6 linked regions of the Homo sapiens genome follow. The protein of the gene in region 1 purifies or fractionates together with the protein of each later gene. This does not show direct contact. Each region holds a gene or a part of one and is shown on either strand. Other genes may lie near its edges. The genes, in order: NUDT12, FKBP15, VWA8, NCOA5, TARS2 and LAMTOR3.

Region 1 (2,277 bases):
CTAATATTTTGTTGTATCCACATTAGCAACACAGTTCCAGGACCAGCTATCTATTGTTGTTATGTGGGATTAATTTGGCTTATTAACAAACTTATTCTTCCTCCTTCCATCTTGGTCTCTCCCTTTGTTATCCTATTATTTTCTGTCTTCAGCCAAATCCCTAACTGGGTCTTTAAAAGAATTTCTCATTTTTCCAACTAAATAAAATATGTGGGCTTCTAACTCTTCATGTTCCATCAACATGTGAAAATATCAAAATCCAACAATTAGCAGTATTAGACAAGTAATAAAAATTAGATATATCGCTTTAAACCTGAAGAACAAAAATTATTGACTTTATATATGTATGTATATATGTAAGTCTGTTTGTATTTGACCCCAAACTATACTTTAAGATTCAAATCAAAGTTTTAAGTCTCCCAAACACAGACACTTTTAAAAAGGCTTTTGCATTTCTTGTACATTATCAATTCGAAACAGGTTAACGACTGAAATCCAGCTTTTCTCATTTTTCAGGACACTTGTCAAAACATGTTAAACACACACACAAAACAAAATAGATTTTAAAAATTTAATGTATTATTACATTCATTTCCAGTAGAATACATTCACGGCACTATCACATCTACTATTCTTTTGAACTGGCCATTCCTTCTATTTACATAGCTTTTCACCTCTCAGAGGTTGGCAATTTAAGAGTTGTTATTAAAATAATAATTTACCTAGATGCTGATTTTTTCCCAAGTAAGGATTAAATATCCAAAACAAAATGTATAACTACACTTGTTGATACTTTATATTCTACTTTCCTATTTTAACATTATGAAAACCTGGAATTTTACAATGTAATCTTAGAATCTGCAAGTATTAAAAGTACATTTAGAGTAAAACTGAATTTCAAGATGCTCTATTTCATAATAATCAAGGTACATTATTTTCCATATACTTATGTAGCTCGAATTTTATTATGTATCTAAATGTCCTCTGTCAGTTTTAATTTGGTTTAAATTCTTGATACCAATAAGCCTTCATCAATTCCTAAGAAAATCACTGCTCATTAGTAAAATAAAGTTTTATCTGACAGTTATCTTTTATTTAAGTTAAATAAATGTTAAGTATCTAAAATTTTAATTAACAATATTTGGTAAATTAAATTTATTCTTATCATTCCTTCTTTTAATTTTGTCTATATATATTTTTAGTAATAGCTTCTAGTTCCTTTTACAGGGAGAATCGTCCTCTGCATTATATAGTACAGACTGTTGTAATTAGTTATGTAACTTTCACTAATTAGGTAAATTCACCTTTCACAATTTCTTTTTCCTTATCTATAAAATAAGGAAAGCTAATTTCATATATTATCCTTAAGGTCTCTTGTAGCTCTAGCATACATTAGTAAAGATGCAAATTATACAAATTTTGATATTCATAAACTATAATAGCTATTAAATCAATTTCAAAATAGCCTTTCAAAATGTGACTTTCTATGTTGCAAAATTGTGAACTACTATGTTTTGCTTTCTCTAGAATCTTACTGATTCAGCTCTAAAATATACTTACTTTGTCAAGGCTTCTTAGAATGTGTTGAAATAAGGTCAAAGCCAAGATATATTTGAGCATAATAAATAGTATTGGTAATGATTATACAATTTTTTGTTAACACAGATACATCACTCATCACAAAATGAAATAAAGCCAATGTTTTAAATTAAATATGTAAATCTGCCTGGGACTTATTTAATATCCGACCTTTGAGGAGAATTCCTTTCAAGTTTAATTTCAGTGCAAAAGCAGAGAATCTTGGTTTGTCTTAATAACAGCTTTAGGTATAAGTAACATATAAGTAGATATGTTAATTAATTTTAGGTCTAAAAGAGAGGTCCCAGATATAATAGTATGCTTTTCTCCTTCCATGAGGGTGTGGTATTGAGATCACTATTAAATTATTAAATTAGAAAATTCTTAACACTGGTCAAATTAGACGAGTGGCGACACTATAACACCTCCACTGCTAGAACAATGGAACCCCCAGGAAAGAGCAAGTGGGACTACAATGGGGAGATGAACAAAAACCATATATTGACAACTTAAAGGTAACAAAAGGACTAAAAAATCAATGCCAGCTAACTCAAGCTAATACAAGCTAAAAATTCATTAAAATTACTTTGATTCATTTCTCAAATCAGGAACTTTCTTCATCATCAGTTTAATGCTTACAAGAGGCACTGAAATTTATGCACATTTCTAGAACATCTTTCCAACATGATGTCTCTTATT
Region 2 (3,559 bases), on another chromosome or scaffold:
TGGCTCACTGCAACCTCTGCCTCCTGGGTTCAAGAGATCCTCCGGCCTCAGCCCCCCTAGTAGCTGGGATTACAGGCACACGCCACCACACCTGGCTAATTTTTGTATTTTTTTTAGAGATGGGGTTTTGCCATCTTGGCCAGGCTGGTCTCAAACTCCTGACCTCAGGTGATCCACCGGCCTCGGCCTCCCAAAGTGCTGGGATTACAGGCATTAGCCACCTCGCTCGGCTAATACACTCTTAACTTACCTGTTGCTGCCGTTCCCTGGCCTTTCTTAGGCTGTTTTGGGGCTGTGTACTGGAAAAATTCATTTCCATGGCCAGCAGCTGCCTGATCCAGTCCAAAAAGTGAGGCCAATCTGGCACTGTTAGTAGAAAATGAAAAATGAAATTTCACTGATATATCCCAAACCTGGAATTATTATAAAAGCTGCTCATCTCCAACCTTGAACAAATACCTCCTTGACTACATCCCACCATTCAATACTAGAAACACTTCAAGCTAGGAAAGCTGATTTAAAAATTAAAAAAAAAAATAAATAAAAATATTGGACACAGCAAAGTGTCTTTGAAATCAAGATTGTGTATGTGATTTGAACATCATCAGTTGACCCTGTTTATCCCCAGGACCTTGGTCAAGGCATTTCTTTTTTCTGGACCTCAGTTTTTCCACCTATAAACTGAAGTGACTAGTTCAGGTGCTCTCTATGGTATCTTCAAACTGTAAATTCTTGCTTTTAGCAAATCACAGTTTCTAGTCACCCTTACTGACTACTCCCCCTCCTGCTTTTTACTAGTTTATTCAATTGAAATGAAGCTATGATACAAACTTACCCATCAAACATGGTCCCTGCCATCCTTTCATCTAACAGAACCATTCTTTCATCATCCCTTGCAAGAAATCTTATCCCCCACCATTCCACTGAAACTGATCTTGCTAAAATCACTAAAAATTTTTTTGTTTGTTTTTGTTTTTTTTTAGATGGAGTTTCACTCTGTTGCCCAGGCTGGAGTGCAGTGGTGTGATCCCGGCTCACTGCAACCTCCGCTTCCCAGGTTCAAGTGATTCTCCTGCCTCAGCCTCCCAAGTAGCTGGGACTACAGGCGCGTGTCACCACACCCGGCTAATTTTTGTATTTTTAGTAGAGACGGGGTTTCACCATGCTGGCCAGGCTGGTCTCGAACTCCTGACCTCAAGTGATCCACCCACCTCGGCCTCCCAAAGTGCTGGGATTACAGGTGTGAGCCACCAGGCCCATCCGATCACCAACAACTTCTTTGCTACTAACCCCAGTTTACCAGTCCTTATTTCACCTCATACCACCTTTTTATACTGTCAATTAACTTGTTCTTCTTCAAATTCTTCTCTTGACTTCTGCAGGGGTTGTGGAAGGAACAGGTCCAAATAAGATATCAATAAATACTAATGCAATCCCTGGCTTGTTTTGCCCCATTTCTCTGGCTTCTCTTTAACCCCTTGGGCTCTTCTTCTTCATTTGCCCAATCTTTAAATGTCCATGTCTCCAGGGCTTCATACTTTCTCTCCCTTGGTAGGGTTTCATACTGTCTCTCTGTACTCATTTACCTTGGTATCAAATGCTATCCAAATGCTGGTGATGCTCAAATCTGCATTCCCAGCCCAGAACTTGCTCTTGAGTGCCAGAAAACATAGATATCCCACAGGCAATACAAATGTAACATGTCCAAACCAGAACTCATATCCTCCAATGCCCACTGCCCCAGCAAAACCTGTTCTTCCTTTTGTGCTCCAAGACCACTGCCAGGTTCAAGGATTCTAGAGAAGGACTCAATGGTCTCAGCATATAGTGGTACTCATGGCTAAGATCTATTACAAAAAAATATACAGAAAAATCAGCAAAAATAAAAAGTGCACAGGTCGGCTGGGCACAGTGGCTCATACCCGTAATCCCAGCATTTTGGGAGGCTGAGATGGGAGGATCACTTGAGGTCAGGCGTTCGAGACCAGCCTGACCAACATGGTGAAACCCTATCTCTACTAAAAGTACAAAAATTAGCCGGGCGTGGTGGCACGCACCTGTAATCCCAGCTACTCGGGAGGCTGAGGCAGGAGAATCGCCTGAACCAAGGAGGCAGATGTTGCAGTGAGCTGAGATCACGCCACTGCACTCCAGCCTAGGCAACGAGAGCGAAACTCCGTCTCCAAAAAAAAAAAAAATTATCCAGTCTTGGTGGTAAACGCCTGGAGTCCTAGCGGCTTGAGAGGCTGAGGCAGGAGGCTCAACTGAGCCCAGGAGTTTGAGACTACAGTGAGCTATGATCATGTCACTGCATTACAGCCTAGGTGACAGAGCAAGACCCTGTCTCCCCCGAACCAAAAAAAAAAAAAGGATTACTAGATTATCATAAATGTCATGGGAATGAGACTGGTGGCGTTATAAGAAGAGGAAGAAAGATCTGAGCTAGTATGCTTGCCATGTGATGCCCCATGCCATCTCAGGACCCTGCAGAGAGTTCCTACCAAGAAGAAGACCTTCACCACATGCAGCCCTTCTGACCTTGAACTTCTCAGCCTCCATAACTGTAAAAAATAAATTCCTTTTCTTTATCACACTTTAGGTATTCTGTTATAAGCAACAGAAAACAGACTAAGATATCAGCCAAGAGCCAACCTTGTAAGCAGGGCTTTTTAGGAATAATAGTCTCAGGCTTGCTGTGTTAACTCTTTAAAACAATTTTTTTTTAGAGACAGGGTCTCAATCTGTCACCAGGCTAGAGTGCAGTGGGGCGTTCATGGCTCACTGCAGCTTTTGCCTCCAGGGCTCAACCAATCCTCCCACCTCAGCCTCCCAAATAGCTGAGACTACAGGCATGCACCACCACACTCTAGGGATTCTCCCACCTCAGCCTCTCAAGAAGCTGGGACTACAGGCATGCACCAAGAAACCTGGCTAATTTCTATATTTTTTGTAGAGACAGGGTTTCACCATGTTGCCCAGGCTGCTCTTGAACTCCTGGGCTCAAGTGATCCACCCACCTTGGCCTCCCAAAGTTCTGGGATTACAGGTGTGAGCCACTGTGCTTAGCCATGAAATGTATTTCTTAAATGGTAAGACCTGATCTGAGGTGCAGAATGGATGTTGTGTTAGCAGGCATGAAAACAACATTAATCTTATACATCTCCATCAGAGTTTGTGAGTGACCAAGTACACTGTCAATGGGCAGTAATAATTTGAAAGAAGGCTTTTTTTTTCTGAACAGTGGGTCTCAACAGTGCATTTAAAATATTCAGTAAACTATGCTATAAACAGATGTGCTGTCATCCAGGCTTTGTTCCATTTGCAGAGCACAGGCAGAGTAAATTTAGCATAATGCCTAAGGGCCCTAGGATTTTTGGAATGGTACATGAGCAACGGCTTCAACTTTAAGTCACCAGCTGCATTATCCCCTAATAAGAGTTAAGCCTGTCCTTTGAAGTTTTGAAGCCAAGCATTGACTTCTCCTCTCTAGCCATGAAAGTCCTAGATCTTCTTCCAATAGAAAGCTGTTTTGTCTACACTGAAAATCCGTTGTTTGGTG
Region 3 (3,559 bases), on another chromosome or scaffold:
AACAAATGTGGCAATATATTAATAATGGGTGATTGTAGGTGAGGGGATTATGAATGTTTTACTGTTTTTCAACTTTTTTTTACATTTGAGAATTTTCAAAGTAAAATGTTCTAAGCAAAAACAAAAGATTTCATAAGAATTTTCAAAATAAAATGTTCTAAGCAAAAACAAAAAGATTTGATAAAAGTATAAGATTTGATAAACAGGAGGAGAAATTCTGTTCTGGATGTATAGAACAATGTCAACAATACCTAGGCTCCCTGACTCACATGAAACATACATATATACATACATACATACATACATACATACATACATACATACATACAAGTTTAAAAATAAGTCTCTTGCCTAAGATAGTATTCCCACTATCTTGGATGGTGCCCTCCTCCACAGGGTCTCACTGAGTGTTACAAAAGCTTCCTAGTCATTCCCTCACTTCCAACAAAGGTGTCTTCCTCCAACATAAGTCTGGTCACATTCATAGCCCACCAACTTAATATTGTCTGATAAGCCACTTTTTCCATATCATAAAATCCAGGAAACTTCATTCATCATGCAAAACATTTCACAATAGCGGTCTGACTTCTCCCTCTACCACACACACTTGCTTTAGGGATACAACTTATTCTCATTCTCCAAAGATACTAGGCCCTTTTGTGATTAAACACATTTGCCTGTGCTTTGACTTCCTGGGCCTTTTATCACTCCAGACATGACCGCCATGCCCTTTGTGAAACTGTAGTGGACAATGTCTGTACTCTATCAGATCCCCTCAGATCTGTTTGCATTCTCTCTTGTGCCTCCTAGCTTTCTCTTCCAACAGCAATTGCTGTAGGTCTTTCTAAGAAGACGATCCTTGGGCTCTTGAAGCCACCCTTGCACACATGCTGGGAGAGCAGTTAGTGTCTGGGAATTTGTGTCCCCTGAGACAACCATGACACAGAGACTGATGGAAGCTAGAACAGTGTGAAAGCCCTAGCTCCCCTAACTCAGGTAAGGACAGCTCTGAGGCCTAACTCACACTGCAGCACACCTCTTACTTGATCAGGCTAAAGCCTTCCTTCCCTCTGTAGAACTTTACTGAGATTGCATGTCTAGCTCCTACTCCAAAGCTGAAAGCTCTTTAGGGGCTCAGAACATGTCCTTGGTCTCTGTACAGTTTACTGCACTGCACAACAAATTAATCTCAGGCCTTACAATATTTATAGAAGAGTATGACAAAAGCAAACTGAAGTCATTAATCCCTAATGATTAACTTTCAAAATTTTTAACATATTTGGGTATGCCAGTCATTAATTTATTTTACTTACCAAGATTTGAACCGCAGCTGCTAAACTATCTAAAGGAAAGTCTGGAAGTCCAAGAGTAGAAGATTCTTGGGAACACAGAGTTGTGGCAAAGGACAAGAGCTGAGAAACTCTAAGGGAAAAATGATATTAAATTTTAATAGTTTTAAAATATAAAATGTGTAAGTTGTTAAATATAAAATACAGGGGCCAATTTAATTAATCTAAAAAAGATCCCTAATATTAATTCTTAAGGAACAATGGTTCCGCATCATAATATCCTACTTAAAACTCAGAAGCTGATTAGATGCAAATATATTCCTAAATTCATCACAATATTTGAGGTTTTTCACCACCTGGTCCAAATCTACCCTGCCAGCCTCATCTCTCACATTTCGTAATCCCAAACCTAAACTCTAGCCTCCAAGAGTTTTTTATGGCCCTAAAAACAAGGCATAAACTCTCACATTCCATGCTTTTAAAACAAACAAACAAACAAAACAAAAAAAAAACACTTGTTGTGTTCGAATTTCTTGATTCCACTCTCTATCTGGCAAAAACTTGCTCATTATTTAGGACCCATTTCAAACACCAATGCTTTTATGAAGCCCTTATAAAGTCTCAACTAATGCCCCCAAATATTTTCAAATTATGGCACTTACTATACCATGTTAACCAAAGCTATTCACATATCTTTCAACTCTATTAGATCTTGAGTTTCCTGCCAAAGATATCTTATTAATTTTATCACCAAACATCCTAATACTGAAAAATTCTTATAAGAATTCTAGTTGTTGAATGACTGAATTAATTAATCAATCAATCAATGAACAGGCAAAACAAATTCAATATTCAGTGTCCAGACATTTATAAAAATATACTTACTTCTCAGCAGAAACATTGGCTCCAATTGAATATAACAACTTAAGTTGGTCCTAAAGTAATACAGAAACATATTAAATTAATTAACAAGAAATGTAACAGATTAAATGCAAATGTTTTGTAGATACAATCCAACCTTTTAATTAAGCAGACACTAAATATTTAACAGCAAAAAATCATTTATTGATACATTTCATTTTCTAAAAGAAAAGCCAGCCTTTTAAAAAAAATCCTTCAAATAATGCCATAATAATTTTTCTTCCTAGTTTCCAGAGCTTTTCTTTACTCTTTATTCTCATATCTTTCCATGACCTACTCAGGAAGACATTCAAAACTGCAGTAACATTTTTATAGCATTGAAGTTCTTGTTATAAATAGAAAAACTGTTTAACAAATAAATTATCCTTGGTCTTACTTACCTTGAAGGGTAAATAATAAATATCCCTGGCTTGAAATCGAGAACGAAGAGGGGGGTCTAATGGATTCCCAGAATACCTTGGCACTGGCAAGCCCAAGGCAATCACTCGGAAATTTTCACTAACTCGGACAATTTTCCAAGAATCCAACTCTTTTTTGGTATGATCCTATAAAAGTAAGAGATCCGGAAGCTATAGCATAAATGATACAAATCACAACTGTAAGAGCTGCCAAGTCCAGGGACTTAGGACTTGACTGTTGAGAAAACTGTATTGGAGAACACTCTCAAATCCATACTGTCAAGGAAGGCAGCAAAGTGAAATCAGGTTCAGGATGCCAGGGCAGGCTCACAACATGAAGACTGGGGTGTTTGAAAGGAAAAGCAGTTAACACACCAAGGAATAAAGGAGACTTGGGTCAGATCTCCAAGCCTTAGTCAGTAACACAGAGGAAAACAGTCAGGGGGTAAGGAAAATACATGACTAGAGGTTGTAACAAAGGTAGTCCCCGACGGGCAGATCACCAGCAAAGCTGTGATTGATTACCAGTGGACCTTAAATAGATAATTATGTTTATGGTTATTCCTAGCAAAGCATATTACTAGCAATAACTAACATGTTTTGGAAACTTACTATGTGGTAAGCACATTCCATGGATTTTTCTCATTTAACTTTCACCAGAATCCAATATAGACTATCTCCTTTTTATATGAATGAATGAATCAAAGTTCAAAGGAGTTATATAACTTGCCCATCGTCCTGCAACTAGCATACAGTGGAGCTTAGAGAATGGAAACAGTATGGGTTTTAGAGTCACAAATCCTGGCTCAACTGCTTGATGTACACTTTTACTAAATGTTAGCGTATGCATGGTATTATACCTTTGGAACCTTAGCCTTCTTAGTAGGAAAAATATCACCTACATTATTGTGACTGCTAGGAAAACTAAATGTGTAAATGTATGTGCAAACA
Region 4 (3,559 bases), on another chromosome or scaffold:
TAGGGCAACACCTCATTCTATAAAATAGAACAAGTGTTCCAATGAGCTGAGCAGAGGCGTTTGGCTTTATAAACAGAGAAGGGAGCTGAGGAAAGCAGAGACAAGGAGCAAAAAGCGGATTGGTCATTTCAGAGTTACTTTTCTTGTGAAGGGTAAAGCAGTGCAGACTTCCTTTTCATGCTGGCTAAAACTGGCCTATTTGTGGTTTTGGCCATTATTTATCTCCTGATTTCGCAGAACGTCAGGAAAAGATCTTTGTCTTGGCTTGATAGCGTGGAACTTCATCATGAATTTGGTTTGGTCTTTGGGCCTAGTTCAGGAGCTCAGTCCAAAGCAATGGCCTCCTGGAAATTTTCTTTGACACCGCTCTTGTTATTCCTAGTCCTCATTGTTTTCTGTGGCTGTAGCTTATGAACTATAAAATCTGGTTTTAAGGTGAAAAGAGTTGTTTTATGATTGTACAATTAAAAAATAAGTAGAACAAAGTAGTTTTTGGTACTGTGAGTGAAAGAAACATGCATTTTTATTTATAGCATTATCCAAGGACCATTTTGTGACCCCTGTCTGGCATATTAGTCTAAAATAAAATTGTGGATTAGATATTGTATATTTTGGGAGTTCTTCACCCCATCCTTTTGTAGTTTATAATGGTTCTGCCATTTCCAGCATGTTTTCTAGATTATTTTCCAGTTCTTTTCCTTGTATGTAAAGCTCTTTTTCTTGTCTAAAAATTCTTAACTGAGAAGTGCTTTTAACTGTTTTCAGACCACCACTTGGACACTATAGATATTCAGGCCAAGATAAAGCACTTCATGGTGATTATGATGATTTTGAATGGCATTCACATTGCTAGTATAATTAACAAAGTATAGAAGTATCACCCAAACTGAAGTGGAGAAGACACTGAGAGATGACTTTTGGTCTTAAGGGCAGTTGGCCAGAATAAAGTATAGCAGAAGGGGAAAGAAGTACCGTTTCTTCCCTTTTCTATTCAGAGGAGACATTAGACCTCTCCTTGGAAGAGATTCCCAAGTTGCCACTTCCCTCTTGTTGATTAATTTTTCTCCAACCAGAGTTCCCCATCTGATGTCCAGAAAGATCTCCAAATTGTCTTTCTACCTTTTTTTCCCTTCTTTACATTAACACCATTTCTATTTGCTTGGTGTTGATTATATCTCTCTATAAGGATTTAGGAGAAAATAATCTGATTATTTAATACAAAATAAAACTATAGATTAGATACTGTGTCTTTCTTTGGGAATTCTTCACCCCATTCTTTTGTGGTTTAAAACAGTTCTGTCATTTCCTACATGTTTTCTGGATTATTTTCTGGTTTCTTCCTTTTATGTAAAGCCGTGAGTTGGTGCTTTAGCATTCTCAATATTTGCATTTTCAAAGAAAATCTTTTTTAAATGAACCCTCTGCTTCCAACTGACAGGTTTTCAAATTCTGTGACAAAAAAAATAGGATGAGGGAAGTTTTTTCTTGACTTCTTGAATCTTTGCTCTCCGTGATTAGTTCCTTAAAGTTATTTATTCTTCTGTATTTCTGAACTCATGGATTTCCCAAAAGTTCTATGTGCACATGTGTTAGGATTTTTTGGGTGTATGGGGATTGGCAGTAATGTTGGTGGTTGTGTTTTTACAACTCTCACTGAAAACTCCCCAGCCCTACCCTAATCTGAGCAATTCTATTAGATAGGAAAAAAAAAAAAATCCAGGTCTCATTTTCTCCATACGTCAGCCCAGATGGAAATTTAAGGAACTCTTAAATAGAGATGAATAAACAGATACTTGACATACTACACTAAAAGTTTACTAAACCCTAAAATGAGACAATTATCTGAGAATTCTTGTTTTTGCAGAAGAAACATCCCATGCTGTCAAATATAAATACTTTGGACTACCCAATGAAAATAGATACTACGAGGCAAATTACAATCAAAATGGTTTAAAGATATAATCTTGAATATTCTTTAATCTTTTAAGTAATTACAAAACGATTCCACCAGCTTCAAAGTAAAATATTTATGTCCTTCATTCTAACTAGAACTGGTTTTGTTCCAAAGATATAGTATACATGACCATGTGATTTCTCCAGTTCTGTATGTAGATGCTCACGAAACTGGCTATAATTATACAGTGTAATATTCCTTTTCATATGTAGAGAGCAAATTATTGGTAATAGAAACCTACCAATTAAAGTAATACTATATGTGTTGTACTCTTAACCTGAATGTTTGCCAGGTCTAGTCAGTGTTTAGATGTGAGTTTCCTTTATTCACAAGACCATTTAATAATATATGAACTCCTGCTGAAGTTATGTTATGTATATTTTTTATCTTAATACACACCCAGTGTATTCCAGAGACACCTTGAAAACTACTTAAAATACTCAAAGATATTATATTTCTCTCTGAATCATAGCCAACCTATATAATTAGAAAGTGGTACACAGTAAGTGAACAGACTCAGTAAGTCATAAACCTGAACTAGTATTCTTCACAATTACGTATAATAGAACTAGATATTCCCTATAAGGCCTGTCATTATATAATTTGTAATTTAGACCATTATAAACTTTAAGAGTTGTAAATTGTGAAAGTACTGCATGCAGTAGCAAAGCTATGGTCAGATATTACTGGCCAAGTCTTACATAGAAAATATTTTCAGGTTTTTTTTAAAATAGAAGGATTATATCTTGTGTCTGCTTAATTGAAAAGGTAAGAATCAATTTAAGATATACTTCACTATTTAGCTTTATATTATTTTCAGTTTTGTCAGAAGCCATTTTTCTAGACAAATTAGAGACTTCTGATTTAAAATGGAATTGAAGATTACCTTCATTTGATCAGGAACTCAAAAGTTGGCAAAATAGCAGCATAAAATCTCTACCAGACCTCTAAGTTTCTTGTTATTGCTGTGGTCTTTCATGTGATAGGAATCTGGTTGGGATTTTTAAAATACATAATTATTATTTTAAAGCACTCGAATTATGTGAGTACTTAATACCATTTGATGTCATTAGATACACTATTAATTGTTTAATACGGAAAAAGGGGAACAAACTCTACTGCAGCAGAAAGCACTTTTATTTCTTCATTCATCTGAAGTATGAAATTTGTAATGTATTTATTTAGCTTTAAGTCATATGAAAACTGTCAGGTATTATTTTGGGGCATAGATTTCTTAGTACATGGTATTTATTATTCACTTCAATTTTTGTAAAGCAGGTATTCTTGGTTTTTAGCAAAGCAGGCTTTAGCTATACAAATTTGCTTTTCTTTAAGCTTATGTGATTCTACTTTTCTCCCATATCTAGTTCTATACGCCAGCCTTCTCTAATGAAAACAACTTAGGAGGAGTGTTTTATTACCTAACCCTACTATACCAAACGCCAGTCCTTATTCTTGGTTATCTGTAGATGTTAACAGGTCATATTCTTTGTTTATTAAAAATAATAATAATAATTTTCTTTCCTGCATGTTATTCTGGAAGATTCTATCCAGTGGAATTCAACACAAGACACACTAACAGGAGGCCCTGCTTCATGGGATATT
Region 5 (3,559 bases), on another chromosome or scaffold:
GGTCTGCAGTCGGGGAGCATAGAGATGGGACCTGGTATTTAATAGGTTGTGGTTGCAATCAGCATGGCCTGAGGGCCCAGGAAGATCACACAGCTGACACCCTACCTGCTTTCCTTCCAGTTACTCTGACCTTCCATGTCTGTACCCTCCTCTCCAGGCTGAGTATGCCCATCGTGGTTTCTCCGAGGTGAAAACTCCCACACTGTTTTCTACGAAGCTCTGGGAACAGTCAGGGCACTGGGAGCATTATCAGGAAGACATGTTTGCCGTGCAGCCCCCAGGCTCTGACAGGCCTCCCAGCTCCCAGAGTGACGATTCTACCAGGCATATCACAGATACACTCGCCCTCAAGCCTATGAACTGCCCTGCACACTGGTAAGCTGGGAGCTAGGGTTACAATCAGGTTGCTAAATATTAAATAATAGAAAGCACCTTGGGGCCGGGCACGGTGGCTCACGCCTGTAATCCCAACACTTTGGGAGGCCGAGGCGGGCGGATCACCTGAGGTCGGGAGTTTGAGACCAGCCTGACCAACATGGAGAAACCCTGTCTCTACTAAAAATACAAAAAATTAGCCGGGCACGGTGGCGGGCGCCTGTAGTCCCAGCTACTCAGGAGGCTGAGGCAGGCTAATGGCGTGAACCCAGGAGGTGGAGCTTGCAGTGAGCCGAGATCGCGCCACTGCACTCCAGCCTGGGTGACACAGCGAGACTCCATCTCAAAAAAAAAAAAAAAAAGAAAGCACCTTGGAAAGAGTATTGGGACACCGATTTGAGCCTACAGTCTTCCCCCTAGCTAACCATGTAAATTTGGGAAACTCATTTTACCTCTTTAGGTCTCAGTCTCCTTAAAGTTGCTATCTAAGGCTCCTCCTTCAGCTCAGTGACCATCACAGAACAGGGAAATGGTAAACGATGTCTGTTATTGTGTTACTGAGAAATCCACTTTTGAACCTCAGGGCTCAGACTGTGATGAGTGGGATTGACAGGACTCAGTGGGAGGATGTGCTGAGGCTGGAGAGGGTTATAGCAGATGGTGCAGAGAAAGTAGGCAAGCAGATTGGGTGGAGGAGCAGTCTTCGGGGGCTAGTCCTCCCTATGGCCCTGACCCCTCTGCACCCCAACCTCAGCCTGATGTTCGCCCACCGGCCCAGATCCTGGCGGGAACTGCCCCTGCGACTAGCTGACTTTGGGGCTCTACACCGGGCCGAAGCCTCTGGTGGTCTGGGGGGACTGACCCGACTGCGGTGCTTCCAGCAGGATGACGCTCACATCTTCTGTACAACAGATCAGGTGGCCTTTCCCTGGCTCCACCAAAGCTTTTCTAAACCACCTTTCTTTCTCCCTATGAACCTGCAAACCCCTGATCTTTATTTGCCCCCTGTATGTACTATAATTCAGCTACATTCTACCCCCAGCTTGCTTCCGCTTCCTCTCTGTTTTTGCCCTTTGTTTTCCTCAAACTGCCAGCATCCCTGATCTCTAGCGGGCTCACAGCTCACTGACCCTTATTTCCTGCCCCTAGCTGGAAGCAGAGATCCAAAGCTGTCTTGATTTCCTCCGTTCCGTCTATGCCGTTCTTGGCTTCTCCTTCCGCCTGGCACTGTCCACCCGGCCATCTGGCTTCCTGGGGGACCCTTGCCTTTGGGACCAGGCCGAACAGGTGAGTAGGAGGTAGAGAAATAGAGGCAGATAAACCACTCTCTGGTGGGAAGGAGTGGAGAATACAGTAATCAAGGTTCTCAGAGGCATCTGGTGAGTGGGTCATTTGTTGGGGACTGACCGGATGTGTTGCTTTTGAAGTCTAAGATGATGTATTCCACTCTTGTCTCATTCCTTCAAAGGTCCTTAAACAGGCCCTGAAGGAATTTGGAGAACCCTGGGACCTCAACTCTGGAGATGGTGCCTTCTATGGACCTAAGGTAAGCTTGGGACCCTGGTTAGTGTTGTATTTATTTATTTTTTGCTTTGTTTTAGTAAATATTTAATAGATACAAAGAATTTTTTTTTTTGAGACAGTCTCACTCTGTCACCCAGGCTAAAATGCAGTGGTGTGATCTCAGCTCACTGCAACCTCCAGCTCCCTGGTTCAAGCAATTCCCCTGCCTCAGCCTCCCGAGTAGCTGGGATTACAGGTGTACGCCACCACACCCGGCTAATTTTTTTGTATTTTTAATAGAGATGGGGTTTCGCCATGTTGGCCAGACTGGTCTCGAACTCCTGACCTCAGGCAATCCACCCCACTTGGCCTCCCAAAGTGCTGGGATTACAGGCGTGAGCCACCGCACCCGGCCACAAAGAAATATTTTTAAACTTACGTAGGATATAAAGAAAAACAATATACTTTCTGCCCTCTTGGCATCTGCAATCTAGTGAGGGCTGCTGAAGGTAAATAGGCCATATCAGTGCTGCGAGATCTGTGCTGTGTAGGTACCAAGAGAGCACGTTAGCTGGGGTTAGCATTACTCGGGGAGGTTACAAAAGGTGTCCTGCAGGAATCACTTTCCAATCTGAAAGGTGAGTGTTGGCCAAGTAAAGATGTGTTTCAGGAGGGAACAGTGTAGGCAGAGGCTGGGGATAAGGATGAAAACACATGGCAGACCAATCTGGGCAACACAGGGAGACCCTGTGTCTACCAAAAAAAAAAAAAAAAATTAGCCGGGTGCAGTAGCTTGTGCCTGTGGTCCCAGCTACCCAGCAGGCTGAGATGGGAGGATCACCTGGTCCCAGGAGGTAGAGGCTGCAGTGAGCCGAGATTGCGCCCCACTGCACTCCAGCCTGGGTGATAGAGTGAGACCCTGTCTCAAAAAAAAAGAAGCCAAGGGGAAAAAAGGACTGAAAAGTGTCCACTGGATTTAGTAAAAAGGCTGCTGGATTTCAAAGGACCATTTTCAGTAAAGTAGGGCCTGAGGGTGGAGTTAGAAGATGAATAAATGAGGCCTGTGTGGTGGCTCACGCCTGTAATCCCAGCACTTTGGGAGGCCGACGTGGGTGGATCACTTGAGGTCAGGAGTTCGAGACCAGCCTGGCCAACGTGGCGAAACCCCATCTCTACTAAAAATATAAAAATTGGCCGGGTGAGGTGTTAGGACACACCTGTAGTCCCAACTACTCAGTAGCCTGAGGCAGGAGAATCGCTGAACCTGGGAAGTTGCAGTGAGCCAAGATCACACCACTGCACCCTAGCCTGGGCAACAGAGCAAGACTCCGTCCCAAAAAGTAAAAATAAAACAGGCTGGGGGCGGTGGCTCACGCCTATAATCCCAGCACTTTGGGAGGCTGAGGCAGGTGGATCACCTGAGGTCAGGGGTTTGAGACCCTGTCTCTACTAAAAATACAAAAATTAGCCCAGCGTGGTGACAGGCACCTGTAAACCCAGGAGGCGGAGGTTGCAGTGAGCCGAGGTCGCACCACTGCACTCCAGCCTGGGCGACAGAGTGAGGCTCCATCTCAGAAAAATAATAATAAAATGAAAAATAAAATAAATGCTATGATGAGAGGAAGTCTATTTGGAGGGAGAAGTTGTTGTAAAGGGAAGTTCCTGGAGAGGTTTAAGGTAG
Region 6 (3,355 bases), on another chromosome or scaffold:
GCCAGGCGTGGTGGTGCACATCTGCAATCCCAGCTACTCAGGAGGCTGAGGCAGGAGACTCGCTTTAACCCAGGAGGCAGAGGTTGCAGTGAGCTGAGATCAGGCCACAGCACTCAAGCCTAAGTGACAGAGTGAGACTCTGTCTCACAAAACAAAAAACAACAAAAAAGATGCATACAGGTGCCAAGCTGACTAGGAATGGACTGTGAACGTTAGTTTTATGCATCAACTTGGCTAGGACACATTGCCTAGTTATTAAAACATGAATCCAGGTACTGCTGTGGATGTATTCTGGAGATGTACTTAACATTTATAATCCCTTAAATTTAAGTAAAAGAGATAATCCTCCATAATGTGGGTGAGACTCATCCAATCAACTGAAAGGCTTTAAGAGCAAAACTGAAGTTTCCAAGAGGACGAACTTCTGCTCTGAAACTGCAGCCTCAGCTCCTACCTGAGACTTTTCAGTCTTCTGGCCCGTCCAACAGATGTTAGACTTGCCAGTCCCCGCAATAGTATAAGCCATTTCCTTGAAATAAATACACATATGTCCAACCGGTTCTGCTTCTTTGGAGAGCCCTGAGACAACTTTCTTCCCCAAATATCCCATTTTATTGTTTGTTGAAATATTTTATTTCTAATTTTATTATTTTTGAACAGTTAAAAACTCAAAGTACAATGAAGTTTACAATGAAAAGGCTCACTCCTGGGATCCTTATCCCCCAGGTATCTAGTTCTGCTCCTTGGAGACTACCAATGTGATCAGGTTCTTCCATATATGTCTTCAGAGACAGTCTACCATATACAAACAAATAGGAATACATACACATTTTTTCTTCTTATACATCAATTGTAGCATGCCATACAGTTTGACACCATGCTTTTCTCAATAAACATTATTATGCCTTAGAGATCTTTTCATCTCAGTACCTAAAGCACTTCTTCATTCCTTTTTCCATTGGGCAAATTAGTTTCACCAATCCTCTGTAATTTATTATCTAAAGTGAGACATTGAGAATGAAAGCACTATTAATAATTATCCAAGAACAGCAGGTATAAACTGGTAGTGTTCAAAAAGCCAAAGCATATGGTTATCCTACCTATGGCAGATATTTAGGTTGCTTCCAATTCTTTGACATTACCAAGTTGCAAAGAATATACTTGTAAATACATACTTTTGCACATCTATGTGCTTTGTTTGGTAGGATAAATTTCTAGAAGTGGAATTGCAGGGCAAAAGGTTATGTATATGAATTTAAAAGTTTCACAGACTGCCAATTGCTGTACATAAAGAGTATAACAAGTCACACTTCCCTAGCAGGCATAGAGAATGCCTGCCCTACTTATTGAATAATCCTTTTCCCATTGTGATCCCGTCTTTATAACAATGTTTTAAGCCCTCACATGTATGTACTGAAGTCTTTTTTCTGGGTGAGTACATACCATTGATATCTAGTTGTGCATTCAGTTCTGTACTACCTTTCAAAAACAGTTAATCTAGGTTTACATTACCCTTTCAAAAATTTCTTAGCAATTTTCACCACCTTATTTTTCCAGATGAACTATGGGATAGTTTATCTATTATACCCCCTCAGAAATTTTAACAGTGGCAGCATTCAACATGTAAAGGTTAAGTAGCTCCATTTGTTATCATTTCTTTTTCTAGGATTTTTAGATATACAATTATTATCTGCAAATAGAAATCTGGCCACCTCATTTCTAAAAGACATTGTTTCATGCACCATTGCACTGGCAAAAATTTCCTGAACGATATTAAATAATCCAGATAATGGGAATTCTGGATTTCAATGAGTACATCTAGTATTTCAATTGTAACAATTAACTACAGTCATGTGTTACGTAACAATGTGGATACATTTCGAGACATGCTTTGTTAGGTGATTTCATCATTATGTGAACATCATACTGTACTGACAGGAACCCCAGATGGTATAGCCTACTACTACACACCTAGGCTATATGGTATAGCCTACTACTACATACCTAGGCTATATGGTATAGCCTACTACACACCTAGGCTATATGGTATAGCCTACTACTATACACCTAGGCTATATGGTATAGCCTACTACTACACACCTAGGCTATATGGTATCGCCTACTACTACACACCTAGGCTATATGGTATAGCCTACTACTACACACCTAGGCTATATGGTATAGCCTACTACACACCTAGGCTATATGGTATAGCCTGCTGTTCTGACCACCCTCGTATGTGGTCCTTCACTAACTGAAACATCATTATATGGTACATGGCTGTATTTATAGCTCTTTGCAGGTAAAGCATTATATCTCTTGCCTCTATTTTATTTACAAAGGCTATTTTCTTGCCCATTTTAAGTGCCCCTAGTCTGTGGTTCTATACCATCCTATGTATAGCTTTATCATAGCACTTTCTATACCTGCTTCCTTTACTGAACTCTAAGTTCTTTAAAGTAAGGTATCACAAATTAATCTCATATTTACACTGAAGAAGGGAGGAAGGATGGAAGGAAGAAAAAGTAGCACATGGCCCGGTGCAGTGGCTCACACCTATAATCCTAGCATTTTGGGAGGCCAAAGCAGGTGGATCACTTTAAGTCAGGAGTTCAAGACCAGCCTGGCCAACATGGTGAATTCCTGTCTCTACTAAAAATACACAAATTTGCCAAGTGCGATGGTGTAAGCCTGTAATCCCAGCTACAAGGGAGAATGGGGCATGAGAACAGCTTGAACCCAGGAGGCAGAGGTTACAGTGAGGCAAGATCATGCCACCACTGCACTCCAGACTGGGCAACACAGCAAGACTCTGTCTCTTAAAAAAAAAAAGAAAGAAAGAAAAAGCAGCACAGCACCTAGCCAATTGCCTCACTGCACAATTCTAGGGATAACAATCACACATATTCTATGTGAAAGGCAACTCCCAGAGCATAGAAATATGATGAGACATGAATGGTGCTTCTTAGAATTGTGCAATGTGATAGCTCGGCTGACTGGCACACAGGTGCTCAATGCATATGTACTGAACTGATCCAGGGAAAAACTGATTGTCAAAGAGCCTAGAAAGAAATTAACTCTGAATGATAGACTGCATTCCTGAACATAAAGGGTATATTCTAGAACTGTAGTACCTCTTTCATGGAGATTAAATTAGGTTCATGCCTGAGGTTTCTTGGTTTCTTTTCTTTTTTGTTTTTGAGACGGAGTCTCTGTTGCCCAGGCTGGGGTGCAGTGGCACAATCTTGGCTGACTGCAATCTCAGGTTTCTTTTCCAGTTAACAGTTCATACTACCGTAAAACAATCTCCAAACCAATACCTACAAGAAACACTCATTATTTATTCATGTGGCTG

Evidence for each region.
Region 2: the proteins of NUDT12 (region 1) and FKBP15 purify together in Homo sapiens (affinity purification with mass spectrometry; 3 studies listed by BioGRID and IntAct, with this or other methods). This does not show direct contact.
Region 3: the proteins of NUDT12 (region 1) and VWA8 purify together in Homo sapiens (affinity purification with mass spectrometry; 3 studies listed by BioGRID and IntAct, with this or other methods). This does not show direct contact.
Region 4: the proteins of NUDT12 (region 1) and NCOA5 purify together in Homo sapiens (affinity purification with mass spectrometry; 3 studies listed by BioGRID and IntAct, with this or other methods). This does not show direct contact.
Region 5: the proteins of NUDT12 (region 1) and TARS2 fractionate together in Homo sapiens (co-fractionation; one large-scale study listed by BioGRID). This does not show direct contact.
Region 6: the proteins of NUDT12 (region 1) and LAMTOR3 fractionate together in Homo sapiens (co-fractionation; one large-scale study listed by BioGRID). This does not show direct contact.

What each region holds. Positions count from the first base shown.
Region 1 is NC_000005.10:103,548,298-103,550,574, forward strand, and holds the end of NUDT12 (NAD-capped RNA hydrolase NUDT12), read right to left. Parts: 3' UTR 558-2,277; downstream 1-557. UniProt on the Homo sapiens protein: mRNA decapping enzyme that specifically removes the nicotinamide adenine dinucleotide (NAD) cap from a subset of mRNAs by hydrolyzing the diphosphate linkage to produce nicotinamide mononucleotide (NMN) and 5' monophosphate mRNA.
Region 2 is NC_000009.12:113,211,227-113,214,785, forward strand, and holds part of FKBP15 (FK506-binding protein 15), read right to left. Parts: intron 367-3,559; coding exon 251-366; intron 1-250. UniProt on the Homo sapiens protein: May be involved in the cytoskeletal organization of neuronal growth cones. Seems to be inactive as a PPIase. Involved in the transport of early endosomes at the level of transition between microfilament-based and microtubule-based movement.
Region 3 is NC_000013.11:41,884,607-41,888,165, forward strand, and holds part of VWA8 (von Willebrand factor A domain-containing protein 8 isoform a precursor), read right to left. Parts: intron 2,756-3,559; coding exon 2,591-2,755; intron 2,225-2,590; coding exon 2,175-2,224; intron 1,423-2,174; coding exon 1,314-1,422; intron 1-1,313. UniProt on the Homo sapiens protein: Exhibits ATPase activity in vitro.
Region 4 is NC_000020.11:46,079,929-46,083,487, reverse strand, and holds part of NCOA5 (nuclear receptor coactivator 5), read left to right. Parts: intron 1-3,559. UniProt on the Homo sapiens protein: Nuclear receptor coregulator that can have both coactivator and corepressor functions.
Region 5 is NC_000001.11:150,497,373-150,500,931, forward strand, and holds part of TARS2 (threonine--tRNA ligase, mitochondrial), read left to right. Parts: intron 1-157; coding exon 158-375; intron 376-1,129; coding exon 1,130-1,292; intron 1,293-1,524; coding exon 1,525-1,662; intron 1,663-1,843; coding exon 1,844-1,921; intron 1,922-3,559. UniProt on the Homo sapiens protein: Catalyzes the attachment of threonine to tRNA(Thr) in a two-step reaction: threonine is first activated by ATP to form Thr-AMP and then transferred to the acceptor end of tRNA(Thr). Also edits incorrectly charged tRNA(Thr) via its editing domain.
Region 6 is NC_000004.12:99,877,777-99,881,131, forward strand, and holds the end of LAMTOR3 (ragulator complex protein LAMTOR3), read right to left. Parts: 3' UTR 560-3,355; downstream 1-559. UniProt on the Homo sapiens protein: As part of the Ragulator complex it is involved in amino acid sensing and activation of mTORC1, a signaling complex promoting cell growth in response to growth factors, energy levels, and amino acids.